3 separate regions of the Homo sapiens genome follow, and regions 1 and 3 are each linked to region 2. Evidence: fine-mapped expression QTL. A gene starts in region 2. Each other region holds a variant in brackets. All regions are shown on one strand. Distances are from middle to middle. Region 1 has its middle 35 kb from the start of ERCC5. Region 2 holds the start of ERCC5 (ERCC excision repair 5, endonuclease). Region 3 overlaps BIVM-ERCC5 (BIVM-ERCC5 readthrough).

Region 1 (4,243 bases), 36 kb before region 2:
GTGTGAAGGAAAGGGAGAAAATCAGGATGATTCCAGGTTTCTGGGTAGCCTGGGGAGTGATGTTGCCATTGAGTGAGATCGAAAATATAGGTGGAAGGGCAAACCTGTAAAGGAAAATTATTTTAAATACATATTACCCTGGTGTGCCACTCAGATTAAGAGAACCTGCCACAAGGAGCAGAGTTGCCCAACACTGCCCATTGCTGCACCTGTGGCTCCTGGGAGACCATGTTCCTCCTGAGGCTGCCTACTCAAGCCAGCCAGTTCCTGTTCCATATAGGACACTCCTCTAGTGGGCAACTCCTGCTCAGGGATTTTCATCAGCCCACCTGAGACTGTCTCAGAATTGTGTTGCAATTGGAGACTCTTCCCATCCAATCTGTCTTCTGTCTCCTCTCACGGGCACTGGACCCATGTTGGGCTCTGAAGGCTCCCCTAGCCTACTTCTGTTTTCTTCCTTATCCTCCACAAACATTTCCCCCAGTAAATCCCTTACATGCTTAGCCCCATTTTGGCATCTATGTCTTGAAGGCCCTAAACTGACAAGAGGTAGTAAGTAGGATGTCAAGTAAGCAGCTGACGTGACAGACTCGAGGGTCATTGAGAGCCAGAATCACTGAGCCTTGGGCAAGGATGAATCTGCCCCAAGGCTGCAGGTCCTCCGGTGACCCTACTATTCTATAACAGATTGCTACGTGTACTAACAGCTGGAGAGAGGCTGCTGGCATGAGGCAGGCAACATAGGATATTTAGAATAGTTAATGTGGGTAAGGTTTTAGACACCTTAGATTACAATATAGCCTTAGAAACACATACAGAAGAATTTTTTAGCACCCACCATAGCCCTAATTTTAATCTGTGTATAAATAAGTGACATCCTATAGTTCTTGGATCTTCATGCCAGTGTTGAAATATGAGCACTGAGCTATGGGTTTGCTCCATCCTTTCCAAGCACAGGATTCTAAGTATAAAAGAGGGCAGGAAAAGTCAGTATCCTTCAGTACTTGAGAACTGAGTGTTCCTCTACTTGGTGATGGCTTTCCAACTAAATGCCACCTGATCTGCTCCAAGGGCACATCCTTAATTCCCTTAGCTCTGTGTGTGTGAACACATTTTTAAAGCTTCATTTGGCTATATAGATGATTACAGAGTGTGTTTGTTTGTGTTGTAAAACATTGTAATGCTAGTTCCGTCTCAACCTTACCTTGAACTTCTTCCACTTCCTTTGTAATTTGCCAAATTATCTTCTACACAGTTGAAACCAAGAATTGTTACTAATGGTAATGATAATGATATAATTTTATTCATAAACCATACAGAAATTGCGTCTTCATTCAAATCATCTAAATGGCTGGGTTCTCTAAGTGATCGACTTAAATGGTTAGGTTTGCAAGAATCGCTTGGTAAAACTATTTGTGTTTAAGCCAGGTAGGCTGCCAACACTGGGCATACACCCAGCTTTCTTGGCCTAAAGATGTGTTCTCCTAGGTAGAAGCCACCTGGAATGGCCAAAAACAGAAAAACCAGAACTATAGTGTTCAGAAAACATCTACAGTGTGTGCAGATAAGGAGAGAACAAAAGAAATCAAGATATTTAGATTTGTATTACAACTGCTCTACAAAAATATGGTAATTTTTCTAGTCTGTCAAGAGTGTATGTCTGTACTTTTGATCTCAAGACAATGGGGACAGTTATATTACATAACCCATGCAAAGTCACGCTTGATACTTAAGACTATATAAAAATGATGGTTCAATTTCAAATAACCACACTGATAGTAGAATTCAAACTTAATCTCTTTACATCCAGAGGTCAAATTACATTATGTATTTGCCTCTAATAAATAGTTAGAGGAACCATAAACTCAGGCTACAGATGTCTGTATAGCCTAAATTCACCTTTCATCCAACCACCAGTAAAAACTTATAGTTTTCACATAAAACTATTTTTATCTTTCTTGCAAGCTTCTTATCTGAAATAAAATTTGCTTAGAAATCACATCATA[C/G]ATTTAGTGTACAGCACTTGAGAAAAAAATGTATTCCTTATTTGAAGATCAAAAACCCTGTACATGCTTAGTAAGTCTATATATTTAATTTAATCTGTCAAAAGTATCTTTAACATATCATCAAGATCATGGTATAGTAATAGACTTAAACATGATTCAAGATGTTTGCAGGCTCACAAATATAAACCAAGACATAATATGCCATTGATAAAAGTGTCAGCTCCATTTAAGACATTAATGAATACTACAAAGGTGACACTTTATATTCTATTAGTTATTTGTCTTCTTAGAATTGGTAAGCTACATAAACATAAAATGACTTACCTTCTTGAGCTTCTGAATCCATCAAGTAATGAAATGATGGTAGGTGATATATTGATGTTTTCTTCATTATTTCTTGAAAACTAGATAGATAATACATTAAAATATCAAATGGTAATAATTCAAAATATGTATGGAGTGCTTTTATAGTTTCTTAATAAAGCTTAACTTCAAATACAGCAGACAAAATTATATTAAAATATCATATATTAACGAAGCGTGACTTAAGAAAGACCATCTAAACACTATCTAGAACAAATTAAAATCAGAACAAAAGCTTCTGAGTCAGAAATTTTAAAAAGCTACTACAGAAAGAAAACATATTCTTCACCAGAGACTACCTCAGTTGTAACAAAGAAAGGCATCATCTTCATATTGACTAGTAAGACTGCAATCCTAAAATTTAAGAGGCGATTAAAACATTGAAAGTTCACTTGTTACCATCAATGCATCATTAGCACCTATGCAATGTCAAACAGCCTCATTGCCAGATAATCTTTTGAGCAGCGTCTACCTTAAGGAGTCCATACCATCACAGCCGATATATTTAAAACTGAAGAAACTATTTATGCCTCTTGAATAGAGCAGATTATCTGAATAAATTTAACAGTTATTCAAACTTTAGAAAATAACGATTTGATATTTTACTTCTCAATCTGGGGTAAAATAACAATTGCAGTACCATGAATTAATATAGCACTCCTTTCTTCCGAGAATCCCAAAGCACATTTTACAGCCACCACATTTTCTTTTACAGCATACTTCAGCAAGTTAGAAGACATTATTTTCCCTACAGTTTGCAAATCAGGAAAACCAAGGTTAAATTATGTCATTGAGGCTACACAGCTAAAACGATAGCAAAAGTGGTCACATGTTTTGCTCCCAATTTAGATCTCTTCCATTAAAGAAAGACATGTCTGCCTTAAGGCTGATATTTAAATGGAAAGCCTGGACATACCTAAAGGAGTTAGCTGAGTTTCTAGAAGGTTAAAATGTATCATCCACAATTTTTGTTTTTGCTGCTGGGACCTCTGGTAGTGACTGAAAGGCTAGCATCGCAGCACAGTTTACTACTATACACACTCGCTACCACTGGTAACGAGTCCAGGCAGAAGGGATTAGGATTCTGACAGCTGCAGCTCCCACGCCTCTGGTTATACAGCAGTGAGACGGCAATGCCCGTAACTAAGGGGGCAGAAGGCTAGGAATATCCCACGAGTGTCTCGTGAACAGAGCTAAAGGTGAATACAACCCACTCCCGGAAGTGAGTGAAGACTATTTGGAGGAAGTGATCCAGCTTTTAACTTGGATGCCAAGAGTTATTCTAAGACTCCGTGGCTATGACATTCTAGGAAATGAACGCTACATATTTTTCATGTCACCTATCTGCATGGGAACACTGTCTTTAGACTCCAACAACCATACTAGAATGTCTGTAGCATTGCTCTGCACCCAGAAATCAAACTACCATGATTCCTTTTTATTCAGACTGAATGGGCAGGCTCCGAACATAGATCCATCTGTGCACCTGCCCAAGTGCATGTATGTGTGCCTCTCAGAGGACATACACATTTCCCATGCCACTGGAAAGATCCCTGATAGAAAGTTACAGAGTTAAGATAAAGCAATATTGGAAAGTTAAACTTAGGAGTGTGACTACAGGTCCATAATGTATACACAGATGAATCGAGGTCACTTTAATGTATTGGAAAGGGCTAGGAGTTGGGAAGCCTGATTTTAGTTATTCCTGCCTATAATTAGATTGTGATTTTAAGCCATTTACTTAGTATGTTTCTTGGTTTCATCATCTATAGAACAAGTATATATCGGCAGGGTGCCTTAGCCTTTGGGAGACCAAGGCAGGAGGACCACTCAGCCCAGGAAATGGAGGCTGCAGTGAGCCGTGGTCACACCAC
Region 2 (4,243 bases):
AAGGGTTCTTGTCACTGAAAACTAACCTTTACCCTTTATTTCTGAGAAAATCTTTAGACTGCAATGATACTAAGCAACAGCTTGAGGGCAGCAACAGCGCATGTGCTCTAAAAAACAAAAAACAAAACAAAACAAAACAAAAATCCTTTGGCTTTCCCCAATTCAAAGTACCCTGTATAAAAACTTTTAAGCCAAAAATCAATTACAGATTTATTTAAAGATTATTCACTTGCAAAAAATGATAATCTCATTATGTTTTAAAACTTATCAATGTCGTTTTATTTATAAGTTTTGTACCTACTGAAGAATTAGGGCTCCACAGTCAGGGATTCCTTTGCTGAACGCCCACACACTCTTGCACTCCATTTCCCGTCCCCAATCCCCCCGCAATCATTTACAGGACTCTTTCCACAAGCCCACGAGCCCCTAGACTCATAGATCCCCATTTAGGAAATTGGTGTAAGGTATCACCAGATTCTGAGCCAGAATAGATACTCAAAAAAAAAAAAAAAATGACTACATAACAAAGAAAAAGATAAAAATTTCAAAAGCAGTATCACGTTTTGCTAATGAAAAAAGAATTTAATTCCAATGACAAACAAAACCAGCCAAACATGTACAGAAACAATAGTCCTTAAAAAGTCAATTTAAAAAATGGGTAAAACACCTGTCCACACTATCCTTCCTCTAAGAAACATAAATGGGGCAAGACTCAAGCAAAACTAATCGTCGAAGTCTACTCTGCTCTCCTTACTGACCTCCCGGACAGGATAATAACTTTAAGATTTACTGTATTAATCGCACTAAACTTCTCTCATGTAGGCAATTTCTTTATTCCTCATTCCAATCCTGTGTGTAGATACTATCACCACCTCTACTTTGCAGATGAGAGAACTAAGGCAGAGAGGAACATAAAGCACTGCCACAAAGTGACAAACCAGGATGCACAGGCCGCTAAGACTGCAAAGCTGGGGAAAGCAGACAGGGCGGCCCGCCTCATCACCCGATTCCGCAATCAACCTACCACGGATCAAAAATATTTGCGATGGAAAAAAATAAATAAATAAAACATACCAATAAAAACTACAAAAAATTTTAAAATACAGTATAACAACTATTTACAGATCACTTACATTGCATTCGGCATTACAAGTAAGCTAGAAACGATTTAAAAGATTACGGAAGTGGGTAGTTTATATGCAAATACCACGCCATTATATAAGGGAGTTGAAGGAACTTGAACATCGTGGTATACGGAGGAGGGGCTGGAACCAAAGCCCCGGGGATACCGAGGGACGACTGTACTTAGAAAACCTAGTGACAGAGATTCTATAGCGACCCCGACCCCGACCCAAGACCATCATCCTGCAGATGCCACTGTGCCCAAGGCAGAGCCCCGCGAGGAATCCAGCCCCGAATCCCTGCACCCCAAGTCCCAACGCGGCGTTAAGGATACCAACAGCCAGGATCTTCCCTTCCAGCGCTTCGGGGCTGACCTGCCGCCCGGAGCACTCCAGCAGCTTCCAGAGCCCCTGGACCCCCATGAGGCGGCTGCGTCCTAAGAGCGGACCCCGACAACTTCTACTCTAATTCTTCTACGACGGACTGCACCGCCGCCTAGGACCCCGGGAGGAAGCCCTCCCTGCTCCTACACAACAAAGATGGCAAATAATACAGAAGCCACGGTTTTCCAGTGGGGGACGGCACTAATGGGAGCGCATTAAAGCGGAGAGACTCTGGCTGCAACACGTCTCAGCAGCTGTCACCGCCTCCCGGAAGAAAGACAGGTCCAGAGAATGGCCGTTGGCGGGGAGGGGCAGGGCCTCGCCTCGCCCAGCGCTTAGGCCCAAACGTCTGCGCCGCTAATGGAAGACCGGGGTGCAAGGGCCACGCAGGCGACGGAAACAGCCAGAAGATGTCCCTGCGACACCTCCCGCCTTCGCTGGTGGGTCCGCAAACCCATGAAAAATGGGCCCGCTCGGTTTCCGTCTAATACGACGCGCAGGGCGGAAGCTCCGCCTCCGCACATGACGTATATTTTCTGCGCTTGCAGCACTCCGGAAGTGAGAAGTTTAGCGCCAGTGGTGATGCCTTGGTGGTTACTTGCTTCCGTCACGCTGGCATCCTGAAGGCGTTAAGCATTAAAACAATGTGCAAAAGCGCCTTCTTGGTGGAGTAACGGGCTTTTGTTTTTGTTTGAGACAGGGTCTCACGCTGTCGCCCATACTGGAGTCCAGTGGCGCATTCTTAGCTCACTGCAGCCTGGAACTCCTGCTGCCCGAGCTCAAGCAACTTTCCCATCTCAGCCTCTCAAGTAGCTGGGACCGCAGGTGCGCACCACTATGCTTGGCGAATTATTTTTGTAGAAATGAGGTCTCCCTGTGTTGCCCAGGCTGGGAACTATTTTCTACACGCTTTTTTAGTATCGGTTTCTACCTTTGCGCCGCCGTGTGTGAAGATACTTAACACAAAGTGTTGTTTTACACGTGAAGAGACAACCAAAAGGTGGATGCCTTCTTGGTTTTGTACTATTTATTTATATGCTAGCACGTAGTAACTAAAGAATAATAAAATTTAAAGCCTGTGAAAATGTTAGGGTCCCAAAATTACTAAGCAAAAGGGAAAAGTCAAGCTGGGAACTGCTCAGGGCAAAACCTGCCTCCCATTCTAGTCAGTCATCCTTCTGCTCACTGAGATAGATGCATATTCTGATTGTCTCCTTTGGAAAGGCTTATCAGAAACTCGTATGCAGCCTTTTGTCTCTCATCTACCTGTGACCTAGAAGCCCTTCCTGCTTCCGAGTTGTCCCCACCTTTCTGGAAGGAACCAGTGTACTTACATATGTTGATTGATGTCTCCTGTCTCCCTAAAATGTATAAAACCAATCTGTGCCCCAACCACCTTGGGCACATGTCATCTGGACTTCCTGGGGCTGTGTCACAGCTGCGCGTCCTTAACGTTGGCAAAATAAACTTTCTAAATTAACTGAGACCTGTCCCAAATTTTGGGGGTTCACAAGCCTTAATCCTTGACATATAGTTTAGTTTTCTTCAGCATCTAAAAGTTATAATGCCGCGGCTTGTAGATCAGAAAGGACTAGAAATCAATTAACAGAGTAACCCCAGAAAAGGCCACAGCTCTGGAACCCTCAGGCCAAGATTCAAATCCCCGCATCGTGCCTCACTATGGTGTTTAGCATCCCTGAAGTCACAGTTGTTCAGAATTTGTGTCTCCATCAGTAATCAGGGCATAAAACCAACCTTGCAGACTTCAGTAAGTATTCAAGGTGTTACATGCAACGCACTTAGCACTAGTAACTATAAAGGATAGTATTAGCATCCATATTTGTTCAAATTGGAACGAAATTTAAACTCAGTGAAAAGGCTGACTTAAGGGAGCAGGCAATTTTTTAAAGACTTCTTTATAACAGAAGTATACGGGAAATTGATTTTTTTTATTTTTTTATTTTTTATTTTTTTGACAGGGTCTCACTCTGTCGCCCAGGCTAGAGTGCAGTAGTGCAGTCTCAGCTTACTGCAACTTCCACCTCTCAGGCTCAAGTGATGCTCTTGCCTCAGCCTCCCGAGTAGTTGAGATTACAGGCCCCCACCACCACGCCCTGATTTTTTTTTTTTTGAGACAGGGTCTTGCTTTGTTGCCCAAACTGGTCTCAAACAATCCTCCTGCCTCAGTCTCCCAAAGTGCTGGAGTTACAGACATGAGCCACCGTGCTCCGTGGAGAAATCCATTTTTAGCAAAACCACTTCTATGCTCAATAAGATGGTTCACAGTGGCCATGTTTGGTTGACCTAGTCACATCTAATTTGCTACAGGAATAATCCTGACAAAGTGTTTTTTGCATTTCCTCCATATGTAAAGTAATCCCCAGAAACTGTTCCCAGTTGTTATTTTACTGAGAGTAATATAACTGCCTGTTCAGTATTTGTCTCTTCCCCATGGTAAACTGTAAACTTACTGAAACGAAGAACGATTTTCGTGACTGCTACATCCCCCAATCCTGGCACTTAGCAGTTCTGTAAATATTGCCTAAATGACCTCTTAAGCCTCTAGTCTAAAGCTCTCCAGTGCACCTTGCAGTCTGCTGAAAGAATCTGCTTGGAGGTTAGGCTGATCATTCATTCAGATCTCATCTGAACCATATGTTGCCTTGTGTTATGGTCTGAATTGTGTCCTCCAAAATTCATCTGTGGAAGCCTGAGTACCTCAGAATGTGACTATCTGA
Region 3 (4,243 bases), 29 kb before region 2:
AAAAGTCAGGAAAGATGGAAATACTAAAGATGCCAAAAGGACACAGACTTGGGAAGGTAGCTCTGAAGGCAGAGGACCCACGCTCAAAGTAATTGGTAGTACTCTCCTCCAATCATTCTTAACTCGAAGCAAATAGGAGCTTGGGGGTTGTTCTTGGGAGACGTCTCCACAGGAGCAGTCTTAAAATAACCTTCTTTGTCCACTCTGAACAAACACTGTGTCAACAACAATCATCCCCTGCAGGCCACTCCTAAAGCTGACCCACCTACACCAGTTCAACTCCAGCCCCCAGCCTCCAAATCCATTTACACAGAAGTCAGCTTCTAATAAGTGAAGTCTGGTTTAAAAGCCAAACATAACGGTACAGAGGTTCCCATACACTTAATGTTCACAGGTAGAATGATGCACCCCATTTAGGTTTCCTAATTGTTTGCTAAAACCACAGCAAACATATTGAAATATGTTCCAGCAGTGAGGCTCCCTCCTGCTATGCTTTTAAGTGGAACCTGAGGGAAAATGCAAAGCCGTGGGCAGCAGGGCTAAACAGTTGTGTAAAACTGCCACTATTGTGGAATTAGAAACATGCACGTATTTCTTCTCAGCTACGTCTGAATGTCAGAGGGAAAGCCTATTGAGAGTGAGTGCTGATCAATAGAAATCTTTTTCGCTTTTTTAACATGTGACCAGGAAGGATCAGACATTGTTAAGATAATGAAAACATGAAAAGACAAAGCCTGTGAATACAAGATAATATCCAATGATACTTGAAATATTCAGCTAAAAAATACTAGAAAAGTAAAACATTAAAAAACAAATGTCAGATTTAGCATTTGTTTTTAGGAACCACACACTAAATACAAAGACCGTGCCACCAGTTAATTTTATTACGTCTTTGCGACAAATTCATTACAAATGGCTGTCATAACTAATTATAGAGGATACATATTTTTTAATTAGGTTTTCCTTTTTCTTCCCCTCGCACGTCTTAGTTTCCTTCTTTTCTTCCCAAACACAGATCTGGCGGTCACGAGGACCATCTTCTCTTTCCCTCCATCGTCATCACTATCACTAGAGCTGCTGGTGGTCGCACCTCCATTCTTCACGGGAGCTTCCTTCACTGAGTTCTGCGAATCTGAAGCACTGGTTTTTGGCTCTTTCGCAGCTGTTCTCCTTTGTACATTCATTAAAGATGAACTTTCAGCATCTTCACTTGAAGATCCATCAGATGATTCTGAGAGGCAGGTCTCCCCCAAAAATCCACCGCATGTATTCTTTCCTTTAGAATCTGAAAGCCTCTTTCTTTTCAGGCTTGATGACTCTTCTAAGGTATTTGTTATGCCTCTCTTCTGGGTTTTTCCTTTTGCCTTATCAAGTAGCTCAAATTCTTTCTCCATGGCAACAGAAACTGCTTCTATTTCGCTGGCTGCTGCTTCTTTCTCTTTCCTTAGCATACATGTCACAGCTCTGTTTAGTCTCTGGCTCTTAATACGTTTAGCATCTTCTTTCTCCTGTTGTGCTAATCTAAAGAAGGAATCAATTCGGAGCTGTGTCTAAAAAAATAACAAAAGAATAATAATAATAAATCAGACAAGTAAGTCAAGTTTCTAAACCAAATCAACAAGCTCAACCTTGATCACTCACATTGGATTACTATGTCAGAGAATATTAATTCATTATCTCCCAAAACCCAGTTCTCTCCCAGTGAATTACTGACAGTAATTTTCACTTTCTAAATCATACCTAAAGCAGTACTTGTACCATCTCTGTCAACTAAGTCTTTAGTCCACATCTCAAATGAGAAATCTCTTCCTAAGATATTCAAAGAGCGTTAAATATTTTTCTGTAGCTAAACATTTCATCTTCCTCAGGAGCAACACGACTTCATGGGGCCTGTTTCTAAGTCCTACTATATCTTTCTTTTAAAAACATTATCATCATACAATACCTTTGAGAGGCAAGTTCACAGTATATATTAGCAACTGTAAGAAATATTCATGCCTTTTATTCAGTAAATTCACTTTTAAGAAGATATTCTTTGGCCGGGCATGGTGGCTCACGCCTGTAACCCCAGCACTCTGGGAGGCCGAGGTGGGTGGATCACGAGGTCAG[A/GAGA]TCGAGACCATTCTGGCTTACACGGTGAAACCCCGTCTCTACTAAAAAAATACAAAACATTAGCCAGGCGTGGTGGCGGGCGCCTGTAGTCCCAGCTACTCGGGAGGCTGAGGCAGGAGAATGGCGTGAACCCGGGAGGCGGAGCTTGCAGTGAGCCGAGTTCTCACCACTGCACTCCAGCCTGGGAGACAGAGTGAGACTCCGTCTCAAAAAAAAAATATATGGGTAAAGCTATATGCCTAATGTTCATCACAGCATTACTATAACAAACTTGAAAATTAAAGGTCTAACAAGTAAACTGAACTAATTATTTAAATATCTTTCATGAAATATAATCTAGTCATCTGGAATTAAGAAAACCACACAATACATAGAAGAAAATATGCTAATAAGTTGGGGGGGAGGATTAGATCTATTAAGTTACATTTAGTATGGCCACAAATAAATGCAGGAAAATTTTTTAACCTAAATGTTAACAACTGTATTAGAGGAGGTAACTAATGAGTAGTTTTAATTCATTTTCTTCATTTTCTAATTTTGGAAAAATAAACACATTAAGTTTTAGAATGAAAAAGGAGATAAATATTACAACAAAATTTATCTGAAATTAAGAAATCACCAGACACTAAGACAAATAGCTTTCCTTTTTGGTTGGTTTATAATGTTTCCAGTAGATAGTCATCCAAAAAACAAAGAGAAACTCATAGAAATGCTGTCTTAGTTTTGTTCATGTTTTTCAAAATTATCCAAGCCTAATGAAAATGGGTTTAATTTAAATATATTATCACAAAAGCTACATTCTCATTTCTGCTAAGTGGTTTATTTGTATGTATGTTTTGTGGGTTGTTTCTAGTGTGGGCGAAAGCTTGTTTTGTGTGAGTCAGAACATACTCACAGATAAAGCAAGAAGTAGGTACCTAGAGGAACTAAAGGTCATACAAAAGGGCTCCTTCCCACAAAAACCTCTCCTACTGATACACAATAATGACTGAACTTCTACCTTTCAAGATTCGTTTATAGAATTTAAAAATATTAGTACTTATAAAAACTTAAATGATCAGAATTGCTTTGAAGACTTCCTTTCGTTAAAAAATGAAAGTAAATCCCAAGGGGTAATGTATTTAATCAGAAACACCTTAGTGTGAAATCAGTTATTAGACTGGTTTTTTCAAAGAAAAAAATGAATATGAAAGGACTCCAAAGTTCAGCCCTAAGAGTGATCATAGAAAATGAAGCCAAAGTCTAACTTTTCTTTTTCTATTTTCTTCTATTCTCTCATCTAAATTATCCTAATTTCAAAATGTCTGCTCTATGCCCCAAAATAAGAGTTAACTGGTCTTTAACAGCTGTCAACCACAGCCTACCCTTCATCCTGAACTTAGGAGAAGGGTCCACCATGATTACCTGCTGGGCATCGAGTTGCTTTAATACAGGAAACAGAGATTCATCTGTCTTCGTTCTGTTCCAGCCGAAATACCGCTGACAAAATATGCATGCAGTTAAGACTTATAAATATTTTGAAAGATATTTAAACAAGTGACAAATAAAAAGGTCCAAAGAACCCATTCTTGATTCCATTCCCTGTATCTCCTAAGATTTTCCTATTTATAAAGATTAGAGTGCTAAAAGAAAGTACTAACAAAATAAATGACTCCAGCATAATCATCTGGCACTATGTTCTTTTCAATTCTATAAAATAAAACATATTTAGCTCTCACTTTAGGACATCAAAGACTTGTGACTATGAAAAAAGGTTAACTGGAATAAAAACAAGTTTCAGATATCTTGCCTATTTCATTAAGAGAAAAAATCAAACGTAGTTGGATTAATTCTAGTGCAAGTTTTGAAACATCTATCCAAATGATTACTTAAATATACACGGAAAGGACAACCAGTAATAAAAAGGACAAGATTAGTCATCTTTCCTTCTTTCAGAATCAATAATATTTAAGTATGTGGTTATATCTATGAATGCTTATCACTGCTTATTCAAACAAAGACCCTCTTTAAAACTAAGGAGAGGGGCCAGATGCAGTGGCTTGTGCTACTTAGGAGGCTGAGGCAGGAGGATTCCTTGAGCCCAGGAAGTGGTGGCTGCAGTGAGCTATGATTGCACCACTGCACTCCAGGCTGG

What was found. PIP is the estimated chance that this variant, and not a neighbour inherited with it, causes the effect.
Region 1: its variant is the best candidate, but not a certain one, in a credible set for the expression of ERCC5 in whole blood (TOPMed, PIP 0.62).
Region 3: its variant is the best candidate, but not a certain one, in a credible set for the expression of ERCC5 in nasal epithelium (TOPMed, PIP 0.76).

What each region holds. Positions count from the first base shown.
Region 1 is chr13:102,879,255-102,883,497 of GRCh38, reverse strand. It overlaps the pseudogene METTL21EP. Among named protein-coding and RNA genes, the nearest start is that of ERCC5, 35 kb to the right of the region's middle. The variant C/G (reference allele first, on the strand shown) is at 2,007.
Region 2 is chr13:102,843,568-102,847,810 of GRCh38, reverse strand. ERCC5 (ERCC excision repair 5, endonuclease) reads right to left here and starts at 1,779. Exons shown (of 15, transcript NM_000123.4): 1 at 1,457-1,779. The coding sequence starts at 1,544. The region is part of intron 9 of BIVM-ERCC5 (BIVM-ERCC5 readthrough); the gene reads right to left. RefSeq lists a silencer at 991-1,040 and enhancers at 1,202-2,024, 1,391-2,180, 2,391-2,440, 2,025-2,849.
Region 3 is chr13:102,872,614-102,876,856 of GRCh38, reverse strand. It overlaps BIVM-ERCC5 (BIVM-ERCC5 readthrough), which reads right to left. Exons shown (of 23, transcript NM_001204425.2): 22 at 3,514-3,598; 23 at 862-1,550. The coding sequence ends at 954. ERCC5 (ERCC excision repair 5, endonuclease) reads right to left here. Exons shown (of 15, transcript NM_000123.4): 14 at 3,514-3,598; 15 at 862-1,550. The coding sequence ends at 954. Among named protein-coding and RNA genes, the nearest start is that of ERCC5, 29 kb to the right of the region's middle. The variant A/GAGA (reference allele first, on the strand shown) is at 2,110.